Regions from separate parts of the Homo sapiens genome. Here region 1 is linked to region 2. Evidence: fine-mapped expression QTL. A gene starts in region 2. The other region holds a variant in brackets. All regions are shown on one strand. Distances are from middle to middle.

Evidence for each region. PIP is the estimated chance that this variant, and not a neighbour inherited with it, causes the effect.
Region 1: its variant is fine-mapped to the expression of PKIB in lung (TOPMed, PIP above 0.99).

Annotation. Positions count from the first base shown.
Region 1 is chr6:122,708,675-122,711,595 of GRCh38, forward strand. All of the region lies in intron 3 of PKIB (cAMP-dependent protein kinase inhibitor beta), which reads left to right. Among named protein-coding and RNA genes, the nearest start is that of FABP7, 70 kb to the right of the region's middle. The variant A/G (reference allele first, on the strand shown) is at 1,683.
Region 2 is chr6:122,609,189-122,612,109 of GRCh38, forward strand. It overlaps PKIB (cAMP-dependent protein kinase inhibitor beta), which reads left to right and starts at 1,217. Exons shown (of 5, transcript NM_181795.3): 1 at 1,217-1,347. RefSeq lists a silencer at 1,068-1,247 and an enhancer at 1,864-2,509.

The sequences.
Region 1 (2,921 bases), 99 kb after region 2:
CCAGGCTGGAGTGTAGTAGCGTGATCTCAGGTCACTGCAACCTCCTCCTCCCGGGTTCAAGTGATTCTACTGCCTCAGCCTCCTGAGTAACTGGGATTACAGGCATGCGTCACCACGCCTGGCTAATTTTTGTATTTTTAGTAGATACTGGCCAGTAGATATTGGCCAGGCTGGTCTCAAACTCCTGACCTCAGGTGATCTGCCTGCCTCAGCCTCCCAAAACCCTGAGATTACAGGCATGAGCCATCACGCCCAGCTGCGTTAATCTCTTTCTGCCTACAGTCCAACATCAGAGGCTGTCTCTAGAGCCACGTCAACACTGTTGCTTAAAAGAATAATTGATATTCATAATGATACTCTGTCATAGTGCCTATAAATTTATATGACTGATATCTAAATAAATTCCATTTGTGTAGTTGTTAACCAAGCACATTTATAACATTAGTTCATTTGAGTCCAGGGTAGTAAAATAGATAATATAAATCCTACTTTTTAAAAATGTAGAATGCTAATCAACAAAGAAGTTAGATGTCTTTCTAGAAGTTGAAAGTCCAGGATTCAACTTCAGAAGTGTTCACTTTTAGGCGACCAAACTTCCCATTGCTCCATATAGACCGTGTAACAAACAAGAGGACTAAGGGCAGTCACTTTGAGAGTGTGTTAATGCAGTTAAGTAGTGCCCAAAGCTCTGCTTTCAAATCATCATTTAAAATAGTTTTATTTTGAATATGTGCAAATCTAAATTACCTAAGGAGGTTTTGAAAAGTAGCTGAAGTCATTCTTAGTACAAAGAGATGGGATCAAGTGGGAGTTTTTTTTTTTAATTAAAAACAGTTTACTATAAAATACGTTATATTTTAAATAGAACATGTTACCACTATTTGATGTATGAGTATAAAATGAGTTGCAATGATGGAGTCACAAAAACAGTTTCAGAAGTGGAATAAATATGTGGCTACTTAAAGTAATTGCTTTGATAGATGATACTCATTTCCATCTATAAATTTTGGTGTGTTAGTAAAAATAGTTCTATTATTTGGTATCACACTGCATTTTCCCTTTGAAAGATAAATAAGTATATATTAATTATAAATGCTTTCTGAAATGAAAGTTTAAAATTTAAAGTGTCCATGTGTATAACCATCAGATGTCCTAGATGAGGGTCGTACTGTATGAGTTTTTGCAGCAACTACTGCTCTGGCTCTACCAATCCAGGTTTACTACCCACATCTAAAAACCATTGTATTTGCCATTAGTCTACAGCCTGACTCCTATCTATTTTGATGTTAACAAAACAAAATCTATTTTAATACTGAATAACTGAACTTTCAGTCTTATTATTTATTTACTTTTGATCTTTATTATGAATATTAATAATGTAAAGGACCTTCATTTTCAGCTCATAATCGATAGGTATCAGCTATTAATTCAACATTGATTTATTGATTGTATTAAGCAGATATGTTCCAGTCTCTCTACTAGGCAGAGGGATATGAAGCCATTTCTATTGTGACCACATTGGTAAGAATTAACTTCCCCTTCTCTTCTTCCTACTGATGTCATAAACCGCCATTTGACATTTTAAAACCATATATCTCATTGAAAAGGGAACTGACTTTTTAGGCCTTGCATGTAAACCCCCAACACAGACGGCCGTGTTCCCTCTTTGTAGGGAAGAGTAC[A/G]AGCAGACCACAAGAACTTCAAAATCACATTGTACACAAGAACTTCAAAATCACATTATTTTCCCACTAGGGCAAATTCAGTGCTGGGGATTTTGTGTACTTGGAGTGTATTTGTGCCCCCTTTGAAATCTAAGAATACTTTGTGTACAATAGTAGTTGGAAAAGCAACTAAATGAGAAATGGGTGGTCTGAGGGCAGCCCTTCTCTGAAATTTGCTTACTTATTTTCTGGGGTTCCATTAAATGCTGTGTTCCCTGTGAAGCCTGGCCTCATTTTCTATCCTGGAATTAAGCGCTGCCTCCACTGCTCACGTGGTAAAGGTGCTAGCACGCAGCCTTCACAGACTGCCAGTTAAGGCATGGGAAGACCTTACTTACTGTGCCAAATTCCACAGTATCTAGCGTGGGGCTTTGCAGAGTTGGTGTTACATAAATGCTTTTTGAATTGAACCCTAACTTCTTTAAGCAGGCTCCAGTACCTCAATAAAATAAGAACCAACAATATTTGAGTCACTGGTTAGAAAGAATAATGTGAAACAAATGAAAGTGAAGGAGTATAAATAGGGTTTGAGGTAAGGTGGGAAAAAAAGAATGAGAAGGGTTTCTTCAAATCCGTGCTAAATCCTCTCAATTCTGAATACTCTGAAGCTAGAAATAAAAGCTAAACTATATAAAATGTAGACAGTAGGGATGCTTTGCTATGGTTATAACCACTTATATTCATCTAAAGGAGAAGTGAAAATATCACTGTATTCTGGATAACACCCAATATACATAGCACACACACACAAACACACACACCACACAGGGACACACACACCCCACTCAAGCTAATGTATTAAAAAGGAAACCTGTTTAATTTTTAGAAAGACTTTTTCATATACAGTGAATTTTCTTTTTTATTTTTATCCCTGTAGATAGCTGGGTTTGTTTTTGTTTTTTGTTACGGAAAGCAGCAGGAGGAATCATGGTAATGGAAGAAAGAGTACCGCCTAAACTTAGGAAAGACTTTGACACAAATTAAGCTATGTTATATTGATGCATCACTTAAGTGTCTGGATCTGGAAGTCTGGACTATATCATCTTTTCAAATGTAATATCCTGCAATCATGTGAGAAATTTATTAGTCCTTTTGGGAATCTGCAAGTGGTTGGGAGAAGCCCAACTAACTCCCTGCAAACCTTTATGGAGGATACATGTTGAATAAGTCTTTCTAGTATGAAACTAAAAAGAATAAGAT
Region 2 (2,921 bases):
CCTACATCACAATTCAGAAAAATCACAGCTTTATTAGCAGAGTATAATTTAAGGAAGTCAATCAATCCTGAAGGCAGAAAGACCTAAGTTCAAAACTGATTTGGAATCTTCTCAGCTATTTAGCCTTGTTCAAAGTATCTAACCTTGCTGAACCTCAGTTTACTATCTGAAAATAGAGAAAATTATTACTATATTGTGGAGGTATGAATATTGAATAATTTAAAGAACTTGATTGTACTACCATTAGCACACACTGAATAAAATATTAGTCTGATTATATTTTCGTATTTCCATATTTAGGCTTTTGCCTAAAAAGGGAATTTGGAAGTGGTCATTGGCAGGTGTCATAGGCTTTGGGTGGCAAGTCAGAGCATAGTATGAATGAGCAAATTAGTAAAGACTAGAGATAAGAGAAGACTTTGAGTACTAATTAAGAGTTTCAGGAGACCAGAGGAGATTTTAAGACTTCAGTGAGAAACCACTTTCTCAGGAAGCAGATAAATTAATTTTATCAGCAGTATCGTCGTCCATGTAATATGGCTTTTAAAAAGCACAGTGAGACCTTAGTAGTAACGACTTTATTTTTCTTAGTGAGAACCTGAAAGTGAAACTTGATATACATTATTTTCTGCTTTTATTGCACAAAAAGTTGTTTCCATTGCATATTGCTTCCTAATCTGTTAAAATAATCTGTTAACAAACTCGAAGACCCAGATTCGGGGCGTAGATAAGCCTGTGTACCTTCCTACCTTCTCCAAACAGCCAACATTAGATCAAAGGGCAACCTTAATGACACCTGGAGCACAAACCCTGCTCAGGGCGCGTACAACCGGAGGGACAGAAAACACGATGCGACGTCGGAAAGCAGGAAGGGAATTGAAATTCCCGCAGTCACGTCACAGAAATCTTAGCAGAACCTCATCATCGCCCAAGGGAACTGGGAGTGGCGGGCGGGGAGGACGCGGGTTGTGTGACGATCACCGATAATTAGTTGGTGGTTAACGCACAAGTAGGATAAAAGAGCTCGCCCCAGGCTGCCAGCAGAAAAAAGCTACCGTGGCACGTGCCCCGGGGAGTGATGCGGTGGCCCGGTTTGCACGGAGAGCGGGACACCGCCTGGGGAGCCGCGCTCGTAGCCTGGGGGCGGGACGCGGCGGCCGCTCCCTCCGCCCCCGAGTAGCTGCCACCGCCTGGCTGCGCCCCAGCCCAGTAGCTCAGACGCGGCCGCATCCCGGTGGACTGTAGAGGCGGCAGCGAGCTAGAGCCCGAGTCGCAGCTCCGGGCCGCAGAGCGCTGGGCGAGCGCGAGCGCCAGGGCACCGGCAGGGCAGGCAGCTGCGCGCGGCTGGTACGTACCTGGTGGAGCGGGCGCGTGAGTGGGTGTCCCTATGCGAGGAGGGAGGAGTGGGACTTGGGAAGTCGGGGGAGACTGACCCAGGGAAGATGTGGTAAGTGCAACTTTCCTATTTTCTGCCCTGCTGGCACAAATATGGGGGGAGTTCGAAGCAGATGCCTCTTTCGCTTGGGCGACCCGATCCATCGTTTAACTCACAAGTCAGGGTACTTAGAGAGTGAAAAGGACGCTCACGCCAACAGGCGTGACGTGGGAGGTCTGTCACCTGCCTTTTGCCCACTCTGCCCTGCAGGTGGCCATTGATGACCTCCTGTCACAAGTCGCTGAGTCCTTCGGCTCTCGCGCCAGCAATGCCAAGTCTTTCCCCTGGGCGGTGCTTACCAAGCCCCGGGTAGTCACGAGCGGCCGCGGGGTTAGCAGAGACCCGAGTACTAACCCGCTCGGCCAGCGTCCGGCTGTGTGGCTTTAGCCAAGTCACCTCACCTCACTGGCCTCCGTCCATTCTTTGGATAAAATATGGAGGTGGGTAGACCGAGTAAACTCAAGGGTCGCCCGTAGCTATTGGATTTTCCCTGCTCCTAGGACCCCGGCAGGCCGCAGGGAGGGACACGAGTGCCAGGTGGTCGCGGGCTGAGGGAGCGGAGGGCCTGTGTTCCGGTTGGTGCTGATGCTAGCCCCTTGGGGAAATTCCTGAAGGTGCATTTCGGAGCCAAATGACCCTGCCTTGCAGCAGGTCCCTTCCAAGGGAGCTGAGAGGGCCAGGTCAGACCGGTCTTCGTAGAGCTCCCCGGGGAACGCAGCCAACGGAACTCGGGTCCTTTAGAAAAGTGCATGCGTGAACTAGGCATGTGGGAAGCACTAAAACAAACAACAAACAAACAACAAAACACCCTGCAGGTGGTAGTGTTATTAGCTGGAGTCTGTGCAGGACTGGAAAGTGGAGATTTGAGGCGAATGACCACTTAAACGTTCATCTAGAAAAAAAATTTTAAAAAAACTCTTTTATCAGTGGTTTGCATACTGAAAGGTATTGAATTAGAAATATTGCGAGTATTGCATTTCTCTTCGTGTACAGATAGATTTCAAAATTCATCTGTCCACTTTATCTCTTCACAAGATGCCTTCCTTCTTACTGACATTGCCACACATTCAAAAAAAATCCTCCTGGGATTTTATATTTAGAAAGCTCAGCATTTGGATTATTAAAATGAGAACTGATGACCATAATGCTCACGGAAAATGGGGTAGGTTATGGATCAAGTTTGGTTAAATCAGCAGTTTATAAACCTTGTTTCCTGTTAGTGTGCCGGGTGCTGGTCAATGCCCCCCTAGTGACACTATCTCAAGAGATCATTTGCTAAAAAGGTGTTTTGGAAGTTCAAAAGATTCGATTTTGAAGGAAAGTATAGCTTTGGAAAGGAAATCTTTTGGAAAACGTTTTTAGTAATGGACTTCTCAATCTTATCTTTACCACAACTTTCTTCAATAAAATATCAAAGACTAATGGACCACATTATGCAGAATATTTTAAAATGTGTCAAATTTCATTTTTGTTAAAGAGTTTTTCC